4 linked regions of the Homo sapiens genome follow. The protein of the gene in region 4 purifies or fractionates together with the protein of the main gene of each other region. This does not show direct contact. Each region holds a gene or a part of one and is shown on either strand. Other genes may lie near its edges. The genes, in order: MEGF8, ACOT9, TENM3 and PSG8.

Region 1 (7,034 bases), 430 kb from region 4:
CAGAAGCCCAAAAGTCAGACAGACGAAAACAGAGACAGATTGAGCAACAGGAGACACATGGAAAAATAAGATGCACAAAGGCAGATAAAGGAAGAGGAAGAAGAAAAAAGAAAACCGGAGAGAAAAGGCAGAAACAGGGAGAAGTAGGTTCCTATATCAAGCTGCAGGAACTGTGGGAGCACTAGGTGATAGGGGATCATTCCGGGGGTCCCCGGCTGGGTCTGATTGAGTGGAAAGGCTCCTCCAGGGCAGAGGAGGGGTCCATACCGGGGCAGGACTCAGGTCCCAAGACTCCCAGGTGTTGGCGGAGAAGTTGTATAGGACGAGGTCACCCAGGGCATTGTTGAGGTCCTGGCCTGTGGAGGGGTGGATAGTCTCATGCCCTGGCCATAGGCTGCCGGGCCTCCAGATCCCAGATACTCGCCCCATCTGCTCACCTCCGAAAACTGCCAGCAGCCCTGGTGGGGACAGGAAGGCGCCAGCTGCCCCAATACGGGCAGAGAAGGCAGGGTCCCTGGCACTCACGTTGTGCCACCACCCAGCCCCCTGGTTCTCCCACAGGTGCAGGTCACAGGCACGTCCCAAGAAGCCAGGCTCACAGCGGCATGGTCCCAGGGGCTGCGGGAAAGGAGACATAAAGGCAGAGATAAGAGAGGGAGAGACAAGGACAGAGAGACAAAGGAGACACAGAGAGGAAAAGAGGCAGAATGAGACAGACAGGGCACAAAGGGAGAGAGAAAGAGACAGACAGGAAGGGAGAGGATGGAAAAGGAAAGAGAGAGAGAGAAAGGGAGACAGAGAGAGACAGGAAGAGGGGAAAGGCAAACTGTCAGACAGAAACAAGAGACAAAGAGAAACAATCAGAAGGAAGCAGACAGACGGAAAAAAGAAGACCAACAGAAAAAGGAAAAGATGCACAGAGAAAAAGGAGAAAAGACAGAAAGACGGCAGGCTGGGAGAATACAGACAGCGTAGTTGACATTCAGCCTGGACTGAAAGAGCTCAGATCTGGGGAGGTCAAGGCGGGGAGGGCTCAAAGCGCAATCCAGATTGAAAGCTGGATGTACACAGCTTCGGCGTAAGGTCAGTGGTGCGAGGCTGGAAGTCATGGCAGGGGTCCAAGGCCACACAGAGTGGCTGGATGGGAGGACAGATTTGGGCCTGGCTGGAGGAAGGAGGGTGGTGTTCACAGATGAGAGTGGGGTATAGATGAGAGTGGGATATCCTCAGCAGGGGAGGCCCTGCAGGTGAAGGTGGGGTGGGGTTGGAGTAACAGGTGAGGGGCAAGCTCTGGAAGGAGAGGGAAGTGGGTGTCACGGAGGAGGGTGGGGTGGTGGGGGGAGTTTCATGCAGGAGCAAGGTCAGACCTAGGAGATGGGCGTGGAGGCTGCGCTCACAGATCAGGGCCCCAGGGGAAACAGGGCTGGGGACCGGCTCACCGAGGCGCAGGTGCCGTGGCTGCCACAGTAGGCTGAGCACTCCTGCAGGCCACAGTCAGGACCCCCCCAGCCCGGCTCGCAGGCACACACACCCGGTGGCTGGCACTGCCCGTGGCTCTGGCAGCCACCCGGGCACAGGGAGAAGCGGAATGAGGCGTTAAAGCCCAGCAGGTTGTAGTTGGCATCACTGAAGAGGTGCAGCAGCATCTGCGGGCACAAGGTGTGCTGGGTAAGGTGGGCAGGGCCTGGGGATTGTCCTGGGAGGGTGGCCCACTCCTGCCCCCTTCCACCCTGGGGGACCCAGAGCCTCATCTCCTTCCTTTGCCTCTCTCCACCTTCCCTTGTCCCTGTGCTCTGCTCTTGGATGCCCTCTTACTGACTCTCTGTCCCTCCTTTCTTCTTCCATTTCCCTCGGTGTATCTGCCACGGCCCCATCCCCACTAACCTTGCCTGAGGAAGCTTCGATGGGCGGAGGTCGGGTGCTCCCACTTAGACTGGCAAGCAGCGGCCCTCGCGGGGAGTCACCGTCATACACGAACAGGTAGTCATACGTGCACTCTGTGTCCAGGAAAAGGAAGTCCAGCAGGATCCGGTGCTGGGGGCTTGGGGCTGGGAGGTGAGCACAGAGGGACCAAGCTCTAAAGCGGACCTTCTCCCCACACCTCCCTGCAGCCTCCCACAATTGTACACCAAACCCTGATCCAGGTGATGCTGGGGGCTCAAGAATGAGTCAGACCTGGGCCCCGCCTTGAAGGGGCCCCCAGTCTCATAACCTAGGGCAGTCAAGGGCTGTGACAGCCAGAGGGACAGGAGCCCAGAGAAAGAATCATAATATTCCAGACCTCTAGAAAGGTCACCTGAGATCAGAATGAACACTCCCACCATTCAGATGGGAAAATTAAGTACAGAGAAAACCCCATCCCAGTGGCCACACAGAGCAGAATCCAGTGTTCCTGATGCCTCTCTCTTCCTGTCCATGCCTGAGTTTCAGACATGTCCAGGCTGGAGGGTCAAGGTCATAATCCCAGTGAGAAGAGCACCTCCGTGACACCACCCCTGGCCCACGCTGAATAGAGCTGCAAGAGAAGAGTCCAGCTTCTTCCCCCAGAACAGAGGCCTAACCTTGGAGCGGCATAGTTCCCCTCTGTCCCCATCCAGAGTCTCACCTCTGCTTATTGTGATGGTTACAAGCACAAACTCTGGAACCAGACTGCCTGAGCTTATGTCTTGGCTCTGCCACCAAATAGCTACCAGCTGTGTGATCTTGGCCAAGTAACCCACCCCCTCTGGATCGGTCTCCTCATCTCTAAAGTGGGATATAGTGGTACTGTGGTGGAATCAAACTTATAGGCCACTCCTGCCATTGAAAGTTAATTCCCTGCCTCTCGTATCTGGGAAGAGCCTTAGTGACTTGCTTGACCAATAAAAAAACAGCAGAAATTCTGAAACTTCCAAGGCTAGATCATAAGAAGACTTGTACTTTTCACCTGGGCCTCGTAGAATGCTCCTTCTCAGAACACAGCTGTCATGATAGGAAAAGCCAAAGCCGGCTGGGCACGGTGGCTCACACCTGTAATCCCAGCACTTTGAGAGGCCAAGGCAGGCGGATCACGAGGACAGGAGTTTGAGACCAGCCTAGCCAACATGGCGAAACCCCGTCTCTACTAAAAATACAAAAATTAGCTGGGCATGGTGGCGGGTGCCTGTAATCCCAGCTACTTGGGAGGCTGAGGCAGGAGAATTGCTTGAACCTGGGAGGCAGAGGTTGCAGTGAGCCGAGATTGTGCCATTGCACTCTAGCCTGGGGGACAAGAGCGAGACTTCGTCTCAAAAAAAAAAACAAAGAAAAGCCAAAGCCACAAGAAAAGGCCACACACAGGCATTCCGGCTGACAGTCCCAACTGAGCTTCCAGCTGACAGCCAGCATCAACTGCCAGCCCTGGGAGGGACCTTCCTGGATGTCCAGCCAAGGTGAACATTCAGCTGACTGCAGCCCCAGCTGACATCTGACTGCAACCTCATGAGGAGCAATAATGCACACGAAATGGTGACAACAGAGTGGGGTGGGTGGCTCACGCCTGTAATCCCAGCACTTTTGAGAGGCCAGGGCAGGTGGATCACCTGAGGTCAGGAGTTCCAGAACAGCCTGGCCAACATGGTGAAACCCTGTCTCTTACTAAAAAAAAATACAAAAATTAGCCAGGCATGGTGGTGCAAGTCCCAGCTACTCAGGAGGCTGAGGCAGGAGAATTGCTTGAACCCGGGAGGCAGAGGTTGCAGTGAGCCAAGATTGCACCACTGCACTCCAGCCTGGGCGACAGAGGGGACTCAAAAAAAAAAAAGAGGCTGGGTGCCGTGGGTCACGCCTATAATCCCAGCACTTTGGGAGGCCAAGGTGGGTGGATCGCTTGAGGTCAAGAGTTCGAGACCAGCCTGGCCAACATGGTGAAACCCCGTCTCTACTAAAAATACAAAAAATTAGCTGGATATGGTGGCACATGCTTGTAATCCCAGCTATTTGGGAGGCTGAGGCAGGAGAATTCTTGAACCCGGGAGGCAGAGGTTACAGTGAGCTGAGATCATGCCATTGCACTCCAGCCTGGGCGACAAGAGTGAAACTCTGTTTCAAAAAAAAAAAAAAGAAATGTTGACAATGGGGCCCACATATCGTGGAGAGTGCCACTACCCCTAACACTGTCACTGTCTTATTCTCTGCCAGTCCTAGTTCAGGTAGCCTCTCTCATTCCACATCCCACATGAGAAGCCTTCTGAACAGGCAGCTCAGGGGAGTCCTCTGGGTGAGGGAAATTAGGAGGCCTAGGCTCTGGCTCTGGCTCTGGCTCTGCCCATGACCAGCTGGAGGACCCTGGGCCAGCCCTTTCCCCCATGACCCTCAGTGTGCCTATCTGGATCCTGGAGACACTCAGCCACCACTGCCAATGGCTGGGTGATCCTGGGCCAGTTCCATGGGCTCTCTGAGCCTTAGTTTCCATGACTGTAAAATGGGGATAATTCCCCCCACCCACAAAGGCTGGGGTGAACATTCAACGAGGTGATGACTCCAGCCTGCCAGCTTAGAGCCAGAGTGTGCCCTGGCTGCCCGGCCTCATCCTGTCTCACCAGAACCACTGATCCAACCTCCTTCTTCCCCTGACATGAGTCTCTGATCTTCCCAACTCAACATCTGGCCCCGTCCCTCCCCTGCCCCAAAGCCCTGCATGGCTCCCTACCACCCTAGGAGAAAGTCCAGGTCCCTAACCTGCTGTTCAGACCCTCGCTTTGTCTCAAATCACCCCACTGCTTACAGCTCTAATGGGAGCTGGGCCTTTGTACAAGCTTCTCCCTCTGTCTGCAACATATTATCCCTTCCCACCACCAGGCCTCTTCCTGATGCCCCCTAGCTGGGTTAGATGCCCCCTCTCCAGGGTTCTCACATCCCATTATAACCTTCATTCCTCTGGGCCAGGAACATCTATGTCCAGGTCTGTCTCCCTGCAGCCTACAAGGCCCATAGAGCAGGGCCTGGATGTGGACCTAATTCCCTCTGCAGCATTGCCCAGACCCGGGCTTGGCAAAGGCTCAGGAAATGCTGGATGATGAAATGAAGAAATACATAAAAGACAGAATACTAAAGCTGGAAGCTCTCCCTCAGGCTCTAACCAGAGCCCCCAAGACATCAGACACAGACCCCACCCATGCTTTGGGGAATGCAGAAGAACCATTCAGCACGGCCACACAACCAGACCTCCCAGAATCTTACCAGCCTCAACCAAACTATAAAGCTCTGTTTCTGGAATCACAAGTACATCTTTGTTAAGTGCCTGCTGGAGGCCAGCTCACCATCTGCCTCCCCAAGTTCTTCCCTAAGTTGAAGGTCTTCTGTTTCCACCCAACCCCCATACCACTCCAGACAGAAATCTGATCCCAAACTCCCTCCTGCTCAAAAGCAGGATGCCTCTTATCCATGAGGATGTTATAAGGACTAGGACTGGGCTGGGCGTGGTGGCTCACGTCTGTAATCCCAGGGCAGATCATTTGAGGCCAGGAGTTTGAGACCAGCCTGGCCAACATAGAGAAACACCATCTCTACTAAAAATACAAAAATTAGCCCGGCATGGTGGCACATGCCTGTAATCCCAGCTACTCAGGAAACCAAGGAACAAGAATCACTTGAACCTGGGAAGCAGAAGCTGCAGTGAGCCGAGATCAAGCCACTGCACTCCAGCCTGGGCAACAGAGCAAGATTCTCTCTCGGAAAAAAAAAGTCTAGGACTAGATAAAGTATGAACATAATACAAAAGTTAGTAGGTTGGTTGTTTATCTTTTTTTTTTTTTTTTCCCTGAGACAGGGTCTCGCTCTGCTGCCCAGGCTGGAGTATAGCAGCGCAATCTCGGCTCACTGAGACCTCAGCCTCCTAGGCTCAAGGGATCTGCCCACCTCAGCCTCGCCGGTAGCTGGAGCTATAGGCACATGCCACCACCCACCAAGCCCAGCTAATCTTTTGTAATTTTTTTGTAGAGACAGTGTCTTACCATGTTGTTCAGGCTAGTCTCTAACTCCTGGGCTCGAGTAATCCTTGCATCTCAGATTCCCAAAGTGCTGGGATTACAGGCATGTGCCACTGCCCCTGGCTGGTTGTTTATTTTATAATAGATAGAGGAAGATGTTGGTTCTTATAGGTAAGAAGTGACAGGCATTGGTAAGAACAGAAGATCATCAAGGGGGATCTGGAGGTCTCCCAGCCTCCTCCCTCACCCCAACATCTACCCAGTTGGTCCCCAAGTCTTATAGGTGAAACTCCACAAACATCGATTGCACTGTCTACACCTCTCCACCCCTCTAAGCCCCTGCCCTAGTTAGGAACTCATCCTCTCTTGCCAGATCAGCTCATCAAGTCTCCAGTCTGCCCCACACCCAACCTGAGGGCAATGCCCTACTCCTGCTCAAAACCTCCTGTGGCTGCCCATCAACCCCAAGGGGAAGGCCAGGCTGCTCAGTGTGACATTCAAGGCCCCTCTTCCCCTGCTTCTGGCTCTCATTACCTCCCAGTCAAAAGTGCCATAAGACCAGGCAAACCTAGATGGGGATCCTGAGACACTCCAGCCACCCTCACGTCTTCATAGAGGCTGTTTGCTCCCTTTTCCCACTCAATAAACTCCTATGCATGCTTCAGAACCCTATTTTAGTGGCTCCTGCTCTGTTATCTGCAGCACAGTCCTCTTTCCTCCCTAGGTACATCCACCCCACCCCTCCACTTTCCTTCTTAGCCCTGAGCACTGTCTCAGTGAACACACTGGGGGCTGAATATCTGTGTCCAGCCCCACCATTCCCAACCAGTCTGAGACGTTTTTTCTTTTTTTTTGAGGTAGAGTCTCGCTCTGTCACCCAGGCTGGAACCACAGATGTGCGCCACCACGCAGGGCTAATTTTTGTAGTTTTAGTAGAGAGGGGGTTTCTTCATGTCGGCCAGGCTGGTCTCTAAAGCCTGACGTCAGGTGATCCGCCCCACTTGGTCTCCCAAAGTGCTGGGATTACAGGCGTGAGCCACCGCACCTGGCCTAACCAGTCTGGGACTCTTTAAGGCCAGAGAGTGA
Region 2 (7,030 bases), on a different chromosome or scaffold from region 4:
CGCTCAGGCTTTGAGTGCAGTGGCACCATCTCGGCTCACTGCAACCTCCGCCTCCCAGGTTCAAGCAATTCTCCTGACTCAGCCTCCCAAGTAGCAGGGAGTACAGACGCGCGACAGCATGCCCTGCTCATTTTTTTTACCTTTAGTAGAGATGGGGGTTTTGCCATGTTGGCCAGGCTGGTCTTGAACTCCTGACCTCAGGTGATCTGCCTGCCTCGAGCTTCAAAGTGCCAGGATTACAGGCGTGAGCCACCGTGCCTGGCCCTCCCCTCCTAACTTTATTGTGGATCCTTTTGTATAATCTGAATAATTGAGGAAATAAGATATATTTTTAAAAAGTTTCTGTGTCCTAATGAAATCGTAGTTCGAATCACTTTGTTTGAAAGTTGATGACAGTTTTCCAGGAACATTTTCTACCTAAATCAGATATCCAAAAGTATATATTATTCAGCAGCCCAAGGAAAGATGGTAACTGGATATTTTTCACTCATAATACTAGATTGAACTAACAATGCCTTTGGCCGGGCGCGGTGGCTCACGCCTGTAATCCCAGCACTTTGGAAGGCCAAGGTGGGAGGATCACGAGGTCAGGAGTTCAAGACCAGCCTGGCTAACATGGTGAAACCCCATATCTACTAAAAATACAAAAATTAGCCGGGTGTGGTGGCACGTGCCTGTAATCCCAGCTACTTGGGAGGCTGAGGCAGGAGAATCGCTTGAACCCAGGAGGCGGAGGTTGCAGTGAGCTGAGACCGCACCACCGCACTCCAGCCTGGTAACAGAGCGAGACTCTGTCTCAAAAAAAAAAAAAAAAAAAAAAAAAGAAGAAGACCTGACAATGCCTTGTTAGGTTTTGTTGTTTGATTTAAACAATTTTTTTTTTTTTTTGTAGAGATGGGGTCTTGCTCTGTTGACCAGGCTGGTCTTGAGCTCCTGTTCTTAAGCAATCCACCCACCTCAGCCTCCCAAAGTGCTGGGATACTGCTTTCCAGCCTTGTTATTTGATTTTATTGTTTTACTTGTAATAACGACATTAATATCTTATGTATCTGTCAGTGCATGATTAAGTAACTTTTAATTACACAATTGATACCATCTCTGTTATCCTGAGACCATATTAAAATAGAACTAATAGAACATAACAGGAAACAAAAAGGTTGGGTAGAGAACCTGTTACTTAAGGACGGTGATTCTCACCACTATACAATTGTTGTATGTTTCCTGTTTTGATTTTGTGACCATTTCCCCTTCCTTCTCTGCTATCCAAAATGTGGTATAGCATATATGCTTGATAATAATGACGACAACAACAACACACACAGAAATCAGAGTTGCTAAGCTGTTTTAAGAATTTTATGCATGCTGCCAATTGAGGTAGTTAGAGACTCGTGGATGAATGCTGGGCAGGCTAGGTCTAGCAGGGGTTCCCTGAAGTTACAACTAAGGTAGGTGGGCTAAGTGATGTGATCATTTTTTTCCCTCTTTAACCTTCTAGTGGACATCTATGTGGTTGGCTGCTCCATACTCCTCTTCTTTTCTTTCTTTCTTTTTTTTTTTTTTTTTTTTTGAGATGGAGTCTCTTGCCCAGGCTGGAGTGCAGTGGCGCGATCTCAGCTCAGTGCAACCTTCGCCTCCCAGGTTCAAGCGATTCTCCTGCCTCAGCCTCCCGAGTAGCTGGGATTACAGGCGCCCACCACCACAGCCAGCTAATTTTTGTATCTTTAGTAGAGGCAGGGGTCTCACCATGTTGGCCAGCCCAGTATTGAATTCCTGACATCAGTTGATCCACTCGCCTCAGCCTCCCAAAGTTCTGGGATTACAGACGTGAGCCACCGCACCCGGCCTCGGTACTCCTTTTCTAAGAAGGTGCTCCGTATCCCCATCTGTACAGTTACTTACAGAAATAACCATGTTAGTAGATTGTGACCCAGTACCTGGCCATGAGTCTGGGTGAGGGGGTTCCTGGTAAGTCAGGGCAAGGGTTCCTTACCCTGATGCCACAGTTGGCTAGTCCAGGAGTGTGTACCTGATCCAAATTGGACCAATGAATCTCTTCTCAGAACTTTTTTGTATTTGGGCCGTAGAAATTTCAGTCAGTCTGTATGTGTGTGGCTGTGGTTGTAAGATGTAAAGTTCAGGAGCTTCTATTGCCATATGGAGAATGTCATTACATAGAGAGAAAAAAGAATGAAGCCAGTATGCAAAGGAAAGCAAAGATAAGCAATAGAGAGAAGGCATCTGCATGGCATTAAGTCCCTGGTTTCAGCTGTTCCAGCCAAAATCGATGGTGTTTATTATATTGATGAGAATGTGTCTTTATAATTTGGAAATTGACGGAAGGCGACTTGATTGCGGGAAAAACTATAAACTGTACCTACCTATTATACCATTTACAAAAAATTCTCTCTTGTACTTATTTTTTCTCCCTGAGCCTCCTATTGCTTCAAAGAAAAGTTCAAGTAAAAAGAAGAACAAAAATAGCATAATTCAATACAATATTTATTGCCCTCTGTGTTAGGTGTGGTAGAGTATAAAGAAATATGGCTGACCCAAAACCAACAAGACAATCACTGAAAAGTGACTTGTGAACAATGTGAACAATGTGACAAAAATGAAAAGACAATGTGAACAAAAATGAAGGAGAGATCCTTGTAGGCTAAAAGGGGAGTCTTCCAGATGTGAGATTGATAAAAGCAGGGAAAATTCAGTAGAAAGAGAAAGCCGAAGACCATGCTCCATGTGTAACTCATGAAGTGATTCAAAACAGAAAGCTAGCTTAATTCAAATCAATACATTTTTACTAAGTATGGGGTATTGCGAAAAAGCATATGGCCCTTGCCTTTTAGGAAATTGCCGTATTTAGAGGCAAAGCAAGACTTGCTTATATTCTCAAAAGATCCCCACTCGTTACCTTATTTCCCCTTTAAACCGCTTTACCATATTTGAGATCATGTTATTTGCTAACTTGTTTGTTGATTTGTTTTCCTTCCTTATCAAGAGGCAAGCCCCTTAAGGGCGGGGATTTTTGTCCTTTTTTCTTTTTGCAACCCCAACCTCTGCAATAGTGCCTGGCACAATGCAAACAGCTCAATAATAATTCGTTGAAAGAAATGGAGAATTAGATCGTAGGGTGAAATAATCTTAAACTCTCTGGCCTTGAATCTCTCTAGCTCGCCCAAGATATCAAACATTGGGGGTCAGGCCGAGAAGAGGAGAGGAACAATTTTTTCCTGTTAGGTCAGTGGTTTTTAGCCTTTGGTTACATTAGCATCACCTGGGGGCATCTTTAGACATCATCCCGAAGCCCAGACCGCACCCAGGACTAAACTAGAATCTCCAGCCAGTGGGTCTCAAGCATCAGTTTTTTGTTGTTTTTTTTTTGAGACATTGTCTCCTTCTGTCGCCCAAGCTGAAGTGTAGTGGTGCGATCTCGGCTCACCGCAACCTCCGCCTCCCAGGTTCAAGCGATACTCGTGCCTGTCCCCCGAGTAGCTGGGATTACAGGCGTCTGCCACCACGCCTGGCTAATTTTTGAATTTTTAGTAGAGACAGGGTTTCGCCATGTTGGCCAGGCTGGTCTTGAACTCCTGACCTCAGGTGATCTGCCCGCCTAGGCCTTCCAAAGTGCTGGAATTACAGGCGTGAGCCACCGCGCCCGGCCAAGTATCAGTATTTTGGAAAGTTGCCCAGGAGATTCCAATGTGCAGCCAAGGGGAAGAACAGACGGAGCCAAGGCGCGGGGATCAAGGATAAAGGAGACAAGCTCCACTAGGCAGAGCCGGGCCTCTTCTCGACGTCACGCCCTGGCGTTGCTGCGTGGTTCGTTTACTCAACCGAGAATAGGCCGGTCCTCGCTGTAGCAACACGACCCGCACAACTGATTGAGTGGGAAGCTCCGCAGAGGCGGACTCCAGCCTCCCGCCAATGAACGGGTAGGGTCCGCCCGGCACAGCGCGGCCACGCCCCCTGGACGCCGCGGTCCCGCCCCCGGACACCGCTGTCCGGCTCCCGGGCTGTCCTCAGCAAGGGCGCGGTCTGGTACTCGTGCGTCTTTTATCGCCTCAGTTTCCCTCCGCCGACTAGCGCGCGGGGCCCGGTTCTCCATCGCGCGCACGGCAGCCTAGCGCAATGAGGCGGGCAGCACTGCGGTAGGTGGCGGGGCGTGGAAGGGGCTGGCAGGGCGGTAGCCTGGGGTGCCATCGTCTTCCCCTAGAGCTTCGGGCTGGCCCCGGCGGAAGAAGTGGGCCACGCATGGGCATTTGGGCTCTATGATAAGGGGCGCTCGCCCACTGTACCTCCGACCGGACATAAGCCCGCCGGCCTTTGGTTGGGAGAACCTCGCCCCCACTTTGGCGACTTCTAGCACTGAGTTTGATATTAAAAGCAAAGCAGCACTTTTAAGGGAGGAAGTTGGGTGTTCCCTAAAATTCCTTTGGCCTTGCTCATCCGGGGTGTGGTTGGTAGCCGCGTCGGGGTAGCCCCTTGTCAGAAAGATAATATTTGGAGTTCTATGTTACCTCTAGCCCTTCATCTTCCTTTGGAGAACATTTTTAGGATTAAATGCTTGACCTACTTCGGCTCTTACTTAAGTTTGTTGTAACATTGGCAGAGATTACAGGGTACCTTTTGGCTCCCAGGACCCTAGGACTGTGCGTCTAGGACCCTGGTGCCAATTTGAACTTAACTTTAATGAGCCGCAAAGCCCTTATAAGAGGCTGGGTGCTTTGATTGGGCCACGTGGGTAAGGGAGGATGCCTTTTTGTATATGTAATCTTCCCAGCTGGCACAGTTAAGGCCTGAGGGCCTTAGACTCCAGAGCGTGTCTAGCTCTCCCTAATCCCTTTCACCCGAGCATGCCACCCTTTCCAAGTTTTCTGCCTGGCTGCATCCCAGGGGGCTCACACCTGCTCCAGTTTCTGAAGTTATCTCGCTGCCAGTGGGCCTGTCCCCCTGATGTGACTCATAGTGCTTTTGACTCACATTAACCCCATCAATTCTCTTGGGGGTCCTGGATATCTCTCTCTCTCTCTCTCTCCCTCTCTCTCTCTCTCTCTCTCTCACTCACTCACTGTTCCTGGGGACTTTGTTATCAGTTGTAAGGGTTCTGTCTTGTTTATAGTACTTAAAAACAAACAAAAAACCTTTGTTAAACTATTTGAAGGCAGACTGAAAGTCATTATGAGAGGGGCCACAGTTGACTTTAGCTTGCAATGTGAAAGGTCTTCTACAAAAGCTCCATGGTCTTGTTCAGGTGCTTTCTCTTATAACCCTGTGTTCCTTTCTTGAAAATTCTATTGAGGCCGGGTGTGGTGGTGCACGACTGCAGTCCCAGCGTTTTGGGATGCTGAGGTGGATGGATCACTTGAGGCCAGGAGTTCGAGACCAGCCTGGCCAACATGGTGAAACCCCGTCTCTATTAAAAATACAAAAATTAGCCGGGAGTGGTGGTGCATGTCTGTAGTCACAGCTACTTTTGGAGGCTGAGGCAGGAGAATCGCCTGAACCGGAAGGCAGAGGTTGCAGTGAGCTGAGATCGCGCCCCTGCACTCCAGCCTGGGCAACACAGTGAGATTCTGTCTCAAACAAAAAACTATTGAACCTTAAGCGGATAATCTCTTAGTGTCTAGTGAGAGGAGGAGTTCACAAATGAATATAGACTGAGATGATTAGGTTCTTTGACTGGTGGGCAACCTTTGTAGCTTCTTTTCTTTTTTAGACTTGCAAGAGGCACCTTTGTTTAGTCTCTAAATAGAGGTTATTTCCTCAGAGTGGAGGGCATATGAGTGGTATTGCCTGTTATTGCACTGAACACTCTTCCTTGCCAACTGCTGTAAGCTTGGGACCCAGGGCTGAGCCAGGGTGAGTTATGTGACTCCCCAGGTAGGCCATGGAGGCCTTGAGTTTTCTTTTTTTTTTTTCTCTTTGAAATACTTTTTTTATTTCTTTGGGATATATGTCCAGAAGAGAAATTGCTGGATCATATGGTAGTTATATTTTTAATTTTTGGAGGAACTGCCTCATTATTTTTCAAAATGGCTGTACCAGTTTACATTTTCACCAATAGTGTACGAGGGTTCCCTTTTCTCTACATCCTCACCAACACTTGTTATCTTTTGTCTTTTTGTAATAATCATCTTTTTATTATTATTATTATTATACTTTAAGTTTAGGGTACATGTGCACAATGTGCAGGTTAGTTACATATGTATACATGTGCCATGCTGGTGTGCTGCACCCATTAACTCGTCATTTAGCATTAGGTATATCTCCTAATGCTGTCCCTCCCCACTCCCCCCGCCTTGAGTTTCTTGATCTCCTTTGATTGGAAAGGTTCAGTTACAAGGTCCTGGGATTTGAGTGTTGCAAAGGCCTCTCCACAGTAAAGGCCTAGAGGTTTTGCTATAAGTAAGACTCCTGAGGGCTTATCAGGAGATAAGCCAGTAACCCTGAGGTACTGAAGTGTTGAGTATTGATTAAAACCATTCTCCCACCTCCTCCACCTCAGTGCGGTGTGTGTGTGTGTGTGTGTGTGTGTGTGTGTGTGTGTGTGTGTGTATGTATTGGGGGAGATCGGAAGAACTGGGCTCTATCTGGACTCTGCTGGTGTGCCTGTTGACTGGCACTGGGGGAAAGTCGTCTGAAACTGGGGCCTCAGTTTCTTAAGGAGGTTGGTTTGAATCAGAATCTTCAAATATAGGGGGATCTGAGGGTACAAAAAGGGTCTGTGCACCTCCTGAAATAGTATATACCATTGTGTGTGTGAGCAAAAATGTATTCCAACCCTTCCCACGCCCGCTCGAGGTCCACAGTTTCCATCAGATTATCAGTAAATAGGATACCAAATGTAGTGAAAAGTTACCATTACATGCCAGGCGCGGTGGCTCACGCCTATAATCCCAGCACTTTGGGATACTGAGGCGGGCAGATCACTTGAGGTCAGGAGTTCAAAACCAGCCTGGTCAACATGGTGAAGCCCTGTCTGTACTAAAAACACAAAAACTAGCTGGGCATGGTGGTGCACAGCTGTAAT
Region 3 (4,157 bases), on a different chromosome or scaffold from region 4:
GGGGTTCCAGAGCATCGGGATCACCTTGAGGGGGAGGGATCTCGAGTGCTCCCTCCACCCGGGCTGTCAGCCTTCTGGTCAGGGAAGGACCCCGGGGCTTCCATGCATGCCCCGGCGCTGCCCCCAGAGTCCCGTGTGTGGGTCAGGAGTGGGGAGGCTCCCGGCCGCCTCTGACGCGCCCCCTCTTTTGTTTCGCCCGCAGCCCATCTTCGGAGTCCAGCAGCAAGTGGCGCGGCAGGCCAAGGCCTTCCTGTCGCTGGGGAAGATGGCCGAGGTGCAGGTGAGCCGGCGCCGGGCCGGCGGCGCGCAGTCCTGGCTGTGGTTCGCCACGGTCAAGTCGCTGATCGGCAAGGGCGTCATGCTGGCCGTCAGCCAGGGCCGCGTGCAGACCAACGTGCTCAACATCGCCAACGAGGACTGCATCAAGGTGGCGGCCGTGCTCAACAACGCCTTCTACCTGGAGAACCTGCACTTCACCATCGAGGGCAAGGACACGCACTACTTCATCAAGACCACCACGCCCGAGAGCGACCTGGGCACGCTGCGGTTGACCAGCGGCCGCAAGGCGCTGGAGAACGGCATCAACGTGACGGTGTCGCAGTCCACCACGGTGGTGAACGGCAGGACGCGCAGGTTCGCGGACGTGGAGATGCAGTTCGGCGCGCTGGCGCTGCACGTGCGCTACGGCATGACCCTGGACGAGGAGAAGGCGCGCATCCTGGAGCAGGCGCGGCAGCGCGCGCTCGCCCGGGCCTGGGCGCGCGAGCAGCAGCGCGTGCGCGACGGCGAGGAGGGCGCGCGCCTCTGGACGGAGGGCGAGAAGCGGCAGCTGCTGAGCGCCGGCAAGGTGCAGGGCTACGACGGGTACTACGTACTCTCGGTGGAGCAGTACCCCGAGCTGGCCGACAGCGCCAACAACATCCAGTTCCTGCGGCAGAGCGAGATCGGCAGGAGGTAACGCCCGGGCCGCGCCCGCCGAGCCGCTCACGCCCTGCCCACATTGTCCTGTGGCACAACCCGAGTGGGACTCTCCAACGCCCAAGAGCCTTCCTCCCGGGGGAATGAGACTGCTGTTACGACCCACACCCACACCGCGAAAACAAGGACCGCTTTTTTCCGAATGACCTTAAAGGTGATCGGCTTTAACGAATATGTTTACATATGCATAGCGCTGCACTCAGTCGGACTGAACGTAGCCAGAGGAAAAAAAAATCATCAAGGACAAAGGCCTCGACCTGTTGCGCTGGGCCGTCTGTTCCTTCTAGGCACTGTATTTAACTAACTTTAAAAAAGAAAAAAAAATGTGTACAGTGTTTCCAAATAGTCCCGAATTGTCGACCTTTGCTTACAAGAAGTAGTCTGTCTGCATAGGATGTGATAGCTATCTCTGTTCATTTTACAATGTGGGGCAAAGTTACTGTTTCTAGACAACCCAACTGCTTTCCCTGTGCAGCTTTGTAGAAGGACATTGGCACAGTGACTTCTGCGGCGGGGATTTATTAATGGATTTTACAATGCTAACGTGGTTTCCCTTCGGGGAAAAAACTGGCAACTAGAATCCTTGTCACTGATAAGCAAAGGAAATCCTGATTTTTTTGTAAATTATGTGAGACAAGTTGTTTATGGATTTTTATATGAATTACAATTTACTGTACATCAAATCTTAGTCTCAGAGGAGTTAATTTATGTAAAGTGTTTAAAAATTTATACTTAAAAATAAAATGATAAAAACGTGAACTGTGTGATTTTTTTAAAAGGATTGCACCTTTTGTTATCTGTTATAGCTGTACAGTATGAATTATTATATTGTAGAGATATAACAACTTATGCCTATAATGTCCAGAAGTGTTAATATTTTTGTATTAGGTTGAAAAAATGTGCAAGCTTCTATCACTAGATGGATAGGACCGTGCAATTCTAGGTGGGTGGCGAATCAGAGAGCTCCTTTCTCTTCCCTCTCTCACGCATCAGGCCAGTGTCCTCAGCATTGTCAACTGAGAGGCACAGTAGACAACTAGGGCTGGTGGAATGTAAGGGAAGAAGATTGAAAAAACGGGAGGAAGGGTTCTCTGGCCCTCTCTCAACCTTGCAAGTCAATGGGGAGTTGTTGATATAATTAACCCCGAGGTTTTTACTGTTACTGTTCCAAAGCTCTGTCTCTTGATGGAGGAGAGACCACATCAGATGCTGGGGAAATAGGAGGAGGAAAGGTTCTGATGTAGTCGTGATCCTAAACACGTGTCTTAAGATCTAGGAAAGACAGCAGAAACCGAGCAGTGGTGGGTGAGCCAGATGGAGCCGGTCAGGGTTACTCTAAGCCCACATGACCAAACCATCTTGGGGGGCTGGTTTGAATGACAGCCTCTGCTCTGTCTCGGGGAAGCCGGGGGTGGCAGATCCAGCTGGAAGTGAACTGACAGCCGCGCCCTCCTGCACACATGCATGCACGCGTGTGGGAACGAGCCCAGCCGCCATCTGCACTTCCGTGTCGGCTCAGCTCTGACAAATCTCTTTCCTGAGCACTAAATTCAGCCACGAAAATATTTTTAGAAGATATTTCTCAGTTCATCGAGCTATAGTACACACTGTTTTCCTCTATGTATAATGGTGATAAAATATAGCAAGTGAACATGTCGTAAATATAAAGGTTCAAGTGATGTATTGAAAATAATTTTCTAACTGCTTTGTATGTATCACATACTCTAAATTGCACAGTAGGCGTGTTTATTAAACAGATGATTGGCTGGGAAAGTTTCAAAATAGCTACTGAATTTACAGTATCAGTGCTATTACTGTCTTTGTGTATTTGGTAGAGCATACCGAAGTAATTAATCTTCTAATGAATGCTGATGATATTTTATTAGAATGAAAGCACAGATTAGCATTAATATTTTTTATTCTGGAAATCCTTTGGCAAGTATTATGAAGCCCAAATTTAGAAAACTATGAGATTTCAAACCACATAAACATGATTCTGTTTTCCATTTTATTTTTTAACTGTTAGGTATTTGCAGTTCTGTTCCGTGGAACTTCTGCAGGCCTGTATTTAGCATGCTGTAAGTACTTTTGGGTGAAATAGGCTCTGAGTCTAAATTCTCAGACATGTTTCTGATGTATTACCATGAAAAGCTTGTGCCACATGACAGAAGTGAGATCATAGTCTTAACCTCTTCTTGACGTGGACTGGTCTTCACTCGGGCACCGATAAATAACAGATTTGGAGTATCTCCTGGTGCTTATTTTAGATGATGAAGTCAAATCAACCCAATTAGTGTCCTGTTAGTAGGTATAATGAGCCTATTTCTTTCTAAAAAGACTTGTGATCTGGACATGCTTTTACAAGAAATAGTGACCTTGGGGAATATGTAAACAAAAGACCTTTTTCTAAGAGTTGGGAGGGGGTGGGGGACTGTATAATGAAAAGAATTAGCTTACAAAAAAGAAATTGATATTCAAAGTATTTTAGGCAAAGCCAGTCAAAATGCTTTCATGATATTTTGAGATGTAAATTTTGTCTGATTTGTATTGTTCTTTTCATTTGCCTTCTTAACTTTATATGTGACCTGAATTTTCCATAACTTGATGACTATAGATTGCACCTAGGCATTCCAATAAAAGCCAACCCAATGTGTGTGTGTTTTTATATTTTTTCAAGTCTTGGGCTAGCCAGCATTGCTTTTGTGTTTAACGTGGAGGACGCAAATAGATGCAGTTGTTGGGGAATTGATTCATCTGCAACCCAGTTGGTAGTATCTTTTTTTTTTTTTTTTTTGTCCATTGGCCAGACTGCTGGCTCAGCAGAGTGAACTTCACAGGGGACTCTCCCATGGCCTACTTTAGAAAAACAGTAAACACACCCCCACAAAGCCAAACACGCTAACTGTAAAGAAGAGTTTACAAAAATACCACCCATTACTACTTGAGAGCAGGCCTCATTCCTGTGATCCTGGCAATAAGTGTGCTTAATTAAAACACTTGATTAGAATAATCAGTTTGGGCCTGGTAGGCTTGCAGCCTCCTGGAGATGTCTAAATCTACATATAGACCGGCTGATTAGAAGATGCTTAGTTCAGCAATTCTGGCCGGCAGGCCAGGGCTTTGATTTTAGTCGGAAGAGGCAGACTTCATCACACTTGCTTTCTAGTGACAACCTCAAC
Region 4 (7,098 bases):
GGAAACAACAGGTGCTGGAGAGGATGTGGAGAAATAGGAAGACTTTTACACTGTTGGTGGGACTGTAAACTAGTTCAACCATTGTGGAAGTCAACGTGGCGATTCTGCAACTAGAAATACCATTTGACCCAGCCATCCCATTACTGGGTATATACCCAAAGGACTATAAATCACGCTGCTATAAAGACACATACACACGTATGTATACTGCAGCACTATTCACAATAGCAAAGACTTGGAACCAACCCAAATGTCCAACAATGATAGAATGGATTAAGAAAATGTGGCACATACACCATGGAATACTATGAAGCCATAAAAAATGATGAGTTCATGTCCTTTGTAGGGACATGGATGAAATTGGAAATCATCATTCTCAGTAAACTATCGCAAGAACAAAAAACCAAACACCGCATATTCTCACTCACAAGTGGGAATTGAACAATGAGAACACATGGACACAGGAAGGGGAACATCACACTCTGGGGACAGTTGTGGGGTGGGGGCAGGGGGGAGGGGTAGCATTGAGAGATATACCTAATGCTAGATGATGAGTTAGTGGGTGCAGCGCACCAGCATGGCACATGTATACATATGTAACTAACCTGCACATTGTGCACATGTACTCTAAAACTTAAAGTATAAGAATAATAATGATAAAAAAAACACTATTAAACAGAAAAAGAAAAAAGAAAAAAATGAAAATAATTCAAGTGCTCATCAACACATAAATAAATAAATATGGTGACACATACAACAGAATGTTAATCTGCCATACAGAGGAATGAAGCTCTGACACCCGCTGGAACATGCATGGACTTTGGAAACATTATGCTAAGTGAAATATGTCAGAAACAAAATAACATAATTGTATAATTCCATTTATATGAAACATCAAGAACAGGCAAATTCATAGAGACAGAGTAGAGAAGATCAAGGTCTAGGGTGGAACATACAGGGAGTTATTGTTTAAAAGATACAAAGTTTCAGTTTAAAATGATAAAAATTTTCTAGGAAAAATAGTGGTGATGGTAATTTAACACTGTGTATGTGGTTAATTTCATTTGATTCAGCATTTTAAAGTGGTTACAATAGCACATTATTCACAGAACTGTGAAAAATAGATTTCTATTATTTAATTCACCCAGGCTAAGGTGTTTGTTATGGCAGCCGAAGCCCATGAATACATCATCTGACCCAGTGTTTCAATGAAAGGCATCAGATTTTCAATCAAGTTAGCTGGAAGCTCCTGTCCCCAGGAGAACCAGACGCCCCAAAACAAGAGCTCCAGCAGGGGCTCAACCAGCACAGGTCCCATAAGGCAGCCTCAATGTCAGGCCCTGGATGGCATGTGAGGCTACAATAATACAACCACAACGTGAAAATGTAAGTATTTTTACTACTTACAGACACTAGGAAGCACTCGGCAAACCTGGAGACCACAGACACAGAGGTCAGTGAGCCCAGACAGGGAGGAGAGAAGAGACCGGTGAGCCAATGGCTTTATTAAGTCCAGGGTGTTATCTGACAGGTTTCCAGCAGGGAGCTTTAATGGATGTGTTCAAAGCAAGCAGCAAACACTGGGACCAGGAGCTCACGCTGTGACTGAGAGGTGGTCACTTTAAATGTGAGGGCAAATGTCAGAATTATCAGTTTAAAGAAAGCAGCTGGAGAGAGGGAAACCCAGCACACCAAGCAGCAGAGATGCCTCTAAGATTTTATCTCTGGACACCAACTGGAGCCACTTGAACCAGACACAGTATTGAAAACTGCCATGGTGACCAAGCCCTGCCTCTGATTTGAGGCAAATAAACTTACACCTTATAAAAATGAATGCCAAGACAACATGACACTATGAGCATCATGACATCCAGGGACACCAGCAGGGTGTGGTACTGTGCCCTGGAGTCAGAATCCAGGGTTCTGGTCCCTGGGAGTAAGAAAATGAAAATGACTTGTCCCTGCCCCCTGACATTGATCTTCCCACCCTGCTGCTCCCTCTTCTGCTTCCAAGCCCAATTGCAGTGCTCAGCCCCAGACATCACTGCCCCCAGGGTATACACAGTGCCGCCTACTGCACACAAACACAAACTCACAGAAGGTGACAAAAATCTGCGTTTGGGACATCTGATTGTGAAAGAGGGAGAACAGTGAACATAGAGCCACACAGACTGGGACTCACGGGGCTGGAAGGTGAAGGAGCTGTAACATAACATATGTGTGACCTCGTGTGAAGTGTGCAGATCCATGTGGAATAAAACATGCAGCCTGGCCTGGGATTGCTGCCGTTCACACTTCCCTCCCTGTCCACCAGAGGGGGACAGAGTCCCTCCCAGCCTGGAGCCTTCCCAGGGGATGCCAACCTCACTCAGCGGAACCCACAGCCCAGCAGGGTCCACCCTCACCAGGGTCACTTCGGCCCAAGTCCTCAGCGCCCTCCATGCTCCCCACACGGACTCTGCCAGCTCCACCCTGACCTGGTGGCCGCCAACCTAACACCACTCCCTCTGCAGGGAGCTCCTCCCCACACACCTGCTCCTTCCCTGGGCCCAGCTAAAGGCATCTCCCAGGGCAGCGCTGGTGCACGCGACGCCACACTAGGCGCTTTCCCCTCGTGGCCTCCCTCCATCCTCATCAACTCTTTCTGTCACTGCTCCCTAAATGCCCGCCCCTGCCCCATCTATCCTGTTCTCTGGGGCATCCCAGGCCAAGCCTAGCACTGACACAGAACAGCAGCTGCCTAAGGGCCCACAGCCTCCCCGGGAATCAGCCAGGCACCCTATGACCTGCCTGCCCGCTGCACCACGGGGTGCTCAGAGTGCGTGTGATGGTCACACACAGGCACCATCCGGGATGTGGCCACCTGCCCCAGCTGTCCCTTGGGAAGGCAGACCTCTCCTGTGCGCTTGCAGGGAGAAGCGGGATGTTATTGCTCTTTGCTCCCAGAACACAACTCACCCCCACACGCCCCCTCAGGTGTGAGCAAGGTCCCTCCAGACAGGCTCTCTGGCCACTGCCTGTTCCTCCTCTACACACAGCAGCTTGGCCAGGTCAAAACCCTCAGGACAGACCCCTGGGTATGTCGGCACATGGAGGGCTGAGCCCATCATGGCCACGGAGTAAGTCAAGATGAATCTCTCCAGCTCTGAACCCCTGCTCTGTCCCAGGCACACCCTCTTGCGTCTCAACGAGCCATCTCCCTTGGGGTTCCTGGGTGACTCCCCACTTCCTCCTGCACCACCACGGGGAAGGTGTGGTGACCACAGGACAATCAGCTGGGCAGAGAAGAGAGGACATCAAAGATGGTCAGGAAGAACATGAGAAACCCTGAGCTCCAGCTCAGTGGCCAGACCCCACGGAGTCACAGAGTGACCGAGAACTGTCCCTTTGACTATGGGACTCACAGCCCCCACTGAGCAACCAGCACAGGCCTCTCCTCCCAAGAGACATGAGAGATTCACCCTGCACACCTCCAGGAAGGACAGTTTCCTCTGGGACACCCAGGTCCTGAGTGTCCATCCTTGGAAGCTGCAGCCAAGCTAGACACGATTAGAGAAAGGAAGGGTCCCTCTCACCAGGCAACACACAGCTCACCCACAGCACAATGGGGTGTCACTGTGACAGGGACCTGGTGCAGCTCCAGCCTCCTGCACTGAAGGGGAGAGCCAGATGGGGATGAAAGAGGCCAAAGGGCATGAATGTGCACCCCGACCCAGAGCCATGGGGACAGCAGGAGGCTGAGGCCCAGGACTCTGCTTGCCCAACCTGCAGGGTATGTTTCTGACTGTGTAGGTCTGTGTGTGTCCTTCTGTGTGTGTGTGTGTGTGTGTGTGTGTGTGTGTGTGTGTGTGTGTGTGTGTGTGTGTCTGCACAAAGTGTGTGTTGAGGTTTGGTGAAAGAATCACTGCTGAAAAAGGCAGAGGCCTCCACAATTCCCAGGGACCTGAAACACAGACAAAAGGAAAAACAGGAGGGACAAGGAGGCAGGACTGAGAGAGGAGGGGACAGAGAGGTGTCCTGGGCCTGACCCCGCCCATGAACCTGAGAGGTGCTCCTGCCCCGGGAAGAAGCTCAGCGCAGAAGGAGGCAGGACAGCACTGCTGAGAGCTGTGCTCAGGAAGCTTCTGGATCCTAGGCTCATCTCCACAGAGGAGAACACACAGACAGCAGAGACCATGGGGCTCCTCTCAGCCCCTCCCTGCACACAGCGCATCACCTGGAAGGGGCTCCTGCTCACAGGTGAGGAGAGAACCTCCTGGGAGAGGACAGGAGGAGGAAGCAGAGTGACTGGATGGGGTCTCCTTGAGAGTATGGGGTACTAAAAAATGAAAGAAGCCAGCACTTTGGGAGGCTGAGGCAGGTGGATCATGAGATCAGGAGTTCAAGATCAGTCTGGCCAACACAGTGAAGCCCTGTCTCTACTAAAAATACAAAAATTTAACCAGATATTGTGGTGTGCTCCTCTAATCCTAGCTACTCGGGAGGCTGAGGCAGAAGAATCACGTGAACCCAGGAGGCAGAAGTTGCAGCTAGCTGAGATAGTGCCATCGCACGCCAGCCTGGGAGACAGTATGAGACTCCATCTCAAAAAAAAAAAAAGAGAAAAAAGAGAAAAAGGAAAGAAGGCTCTATTGGAGCCTGGATAGGGGGAAATACACCAGAGAGGGACAGGGGTCAAAACAGGAAAGTCACAGGAACCAGAATTGGTAAGAGGTAGGAAAATCTTGTGTTCTGTTTTCCTGATTAATCATCAGGGGCCACCACATTTTGAAATATGATAATAATAACTGTATCAGATGACACTTCACATAAAAATATACACAGGGCATGAAACACTGTCCTCAGCAAGAAACCTCAACAATTGGGGGGAAAAAAAAACACCAAGGGCGTGGAGGGCCCTGAGAACTCTCACATCTACAGGAGTCTGCAGCCTGTTCTGGGCACTGGGGTGCAACCAAGATCACAAAAATCCCTGTCCTCATGGAGCTCACGCTGTCATGGAGGGGAAGACAGACATGCAAAGAGATCTAGAATGTAAGGTCAGGTGTTGAGAAGAACCCTGGAGGGAGCAGAGCAGGGAAAGGTCAGAAAGGGAAGACCCAGGGTATCTGAAGGAGGTGTCAGGAAAGAAATCTAAGGATGCCCTGATGTGAGCAGGACCTGAGGGCAGTGTGGAGGGGGCCATGCGGACCCCTGGGGAAGAGGATTGCAAACAGAAAAATGCCAAGGTCAGAAGTGTTGAAGGAATGGGGGTCATGGGGCTGACCTTGACCTAGTAGGATAGTAGGACACACACACATACACACACACAGACACACATGCCGCTTTTGTGTGTGTGTGTGCGTGTGTTTGTATGTGTGTGTGTCTGTGTCTTCAAGGCTGAGGACTGAAGAGAACTTCTCAGGACCCAGGGCCCCATGTTTTCACACCAATACATAGCTCTCAATATTGACTGATGCTCTCTCCACCTCCTAGCATCACTTTTAAACTTCTGGAACCCACCCACGACTGCCCAAGTCACGATTGAAGCCCAGCCAACCAAAGTTTCTGAGGGGAAGGATGTTCTTCTACTTGTCCACAATTTGCCCCAGAATCTTACTGGCTACATCTGGTACAAAGGGCAAATCAGGGACCTCTACCATTACATTACATCATATGTAGTAGACGGTCAAATAATTATATATGGGCCTGCATACAGTGGACGAGAAACAATATATTCCAATGCATCCCTGCTGATCCAGAATGTCACCCAGGAAGACGCAGGATCCTACACCTTACACATCATAATGGGAGGTGATGAGAATAGAGGAGTAACTGGACATTTCACCTTCACCTTATATCGTGAGTGATTCCACATGATCCCTGGGTGTTGGGGGACAGGGGTCACTTCTACTTCACACACACAGGATTGTCAGGCCTGGACATTGCCTGTGTCCCTCTCTGCATTATGTCCCATGCTGGGGTTTGGGCATTTAGTGCAGGACACACACAGAGGAGACAAATTTCAACAGATCAGAATTCCTTTCCCGCATCCAGACCCTGCAGACACTCGCTGCAGAGGAAGGACAGTCTGATGGGGGGACTCAGCAGGAGGAGATCAGTCTCAGACAAGCACCTCATGCCCTCTTCATAAATTTGACCCTGAGAAAGACCCTGGAGAACTGAGTAGGGCTTGGCCTGAGGAGCCCCTGAGATACTCTCAGAGAAGCTCAGCCCTAGAAGCCTCACCCCCAGAACAGTGTCCCTAAATCCTTGCTCCAGATAAATCTGAGGAGCCTGTGCTGGGGCTGGGTTGTGGCTTCTTGGGCAGGGCTTACTGGGACCGAGGATTTACCAGCTGTCAGAGGACTGTGTCTCCTGGAGCTGTTCACCAGCCAGGGCTCAGCCCTCAGAGCCTCATCTGGGCAAGGACAGAGTTTTCTTCACCTGACACTCAGAGTGGAGAGGACAGAAAGACAAGCTTTGTAGGCCATCAGACAACTGCCTTAGGAGGCTTAGGCCAGTCCATAGAAAGTCTAATGTCCCCAGAAGCAGAAACACAAGAGAGAAGATGTACCTGGTAGCAGCTTGCCCACAGGGATCTGACGCAAAGGGGCTTTCTCATGGAAGCAAATTAATAATAAATGCTATTTGTGTGAAACCTCCACTGTGCCAAGCATTAGGTCAGGTGACTGTGAATCATTTAACATTTATTCACAGATAGCATGAAAAGCCACTGTCCATTTGCCATTTAGCTTATCTGATTGACAGAAAACTGAGGTACAGGAAGACACAGTCCCTGAGCCAGAGTCACACAATCACAAAGGGGAGATCAGGGTCACATGAGGTGTGTCCGCAGCCACAGGCTCATCCTCTCCTCCACCAGAAGTGAGGGCTCACTGGCTTCCAAGCACCCCATAGTCATTTATTGGCTCAAAACCTCTCTTCTTAGGCATCCAAACCTCAGAGGAGTGAGAGAAAATGGTCAACTGATTAGTCTGTACTCCAGAACTAAATCACCTGCCTCAACCATCAGAGTCAGTGGAAAAAACATGTCCAGGCCTCCCCCTCAGATCTTAGCCCCCATCACTGAACCTGAAATCCTGTGTTTCCCAAAGT

The links.
Region 1: the proteins of PSG8 (region 4) and MEGF8 purify together in Homo sapiens (co-immunoprecipitation; 3 studies listed by BioGRID and IntAct, with this or other methods). This does not show direct contact.
Region 2: the proteins of PSG8 (region 4) and ACOT9 purify together in Homo sapiens (affinity purification with mass spectrometry; 2 studies listed by BioGRID and IntAct, with this or other methods). This does not show direct contact.
Region 3: the proteins of PSG8 (region 4) and TENM3 purify together in Homo sapiens (affinity purification with mass spectrometry; 2 studies listed by BioGRID and IntAct, with this or other methods). This does not show direct contact.

What each region holds. Positions count from the first base shown.
Region 1 is NC_000019.10:42,328,619-42,335,652, reverse strand, and holds part of MEGF8 (multiple epidermal growth factor-like domains protein 8 isoform 1 precursor), read right to left. Parts: intron 2,049-7,034; coding exon 1,885-2,048; intron 1,647-1,884; coding exon 1,440-1,646; intron 619-1,439; coding exon 438-618; intron 357-437; coding exon 268-356; intron 1-267. UniProt on the Homo sapiens protein: Acts as a negative regulator of hedgehog signaling.
Region 2 is NC_000023.11:23,740,243-23,747,272, reverse strand, and holds the start of ACOT9 (acyl-coenzyme A thioesterase 9, mitochondrial isoform a precursor), read left to right. Parts: upstream 1-3,996; 5' UTR 3,997-4,128; coding exon 4,129-4,148; intron 4,149-7,030. UniProt on the Homo sapiens protein: Mitochondrial acyl-CoA thioesterase. Catalyzes the hydrolysis of acyl-CoAs into free fatty acids and coenzyme A (CoA), regulating their respective intracellular levels. Regulates both mitochondrial lipid and amino acid metabolism.
Region 3 is NC_000004.12:182,799,394-182,803,550, forward strand, and holds the end of TENM3 (teneurin-3), read left to right. Parts: intron 1-202; coding exon 203-958; 3' UTR 959-3,631; downstream 3,632-4,157.
Region 4 is NC_000019.10:42,762,659-42,769,756, reverse strand, and holds the start of PSG8 (pregnancy-specific beta-1-glycoprotein 8 isoform a precursor), read left to right. Parts: upstream 1-4,078; 5' UTR 4,079-4,175; coding exon 4,176-4,239; intron 4,240-5,475; coding exon 5,476-5,841; intron 5,842-7,098.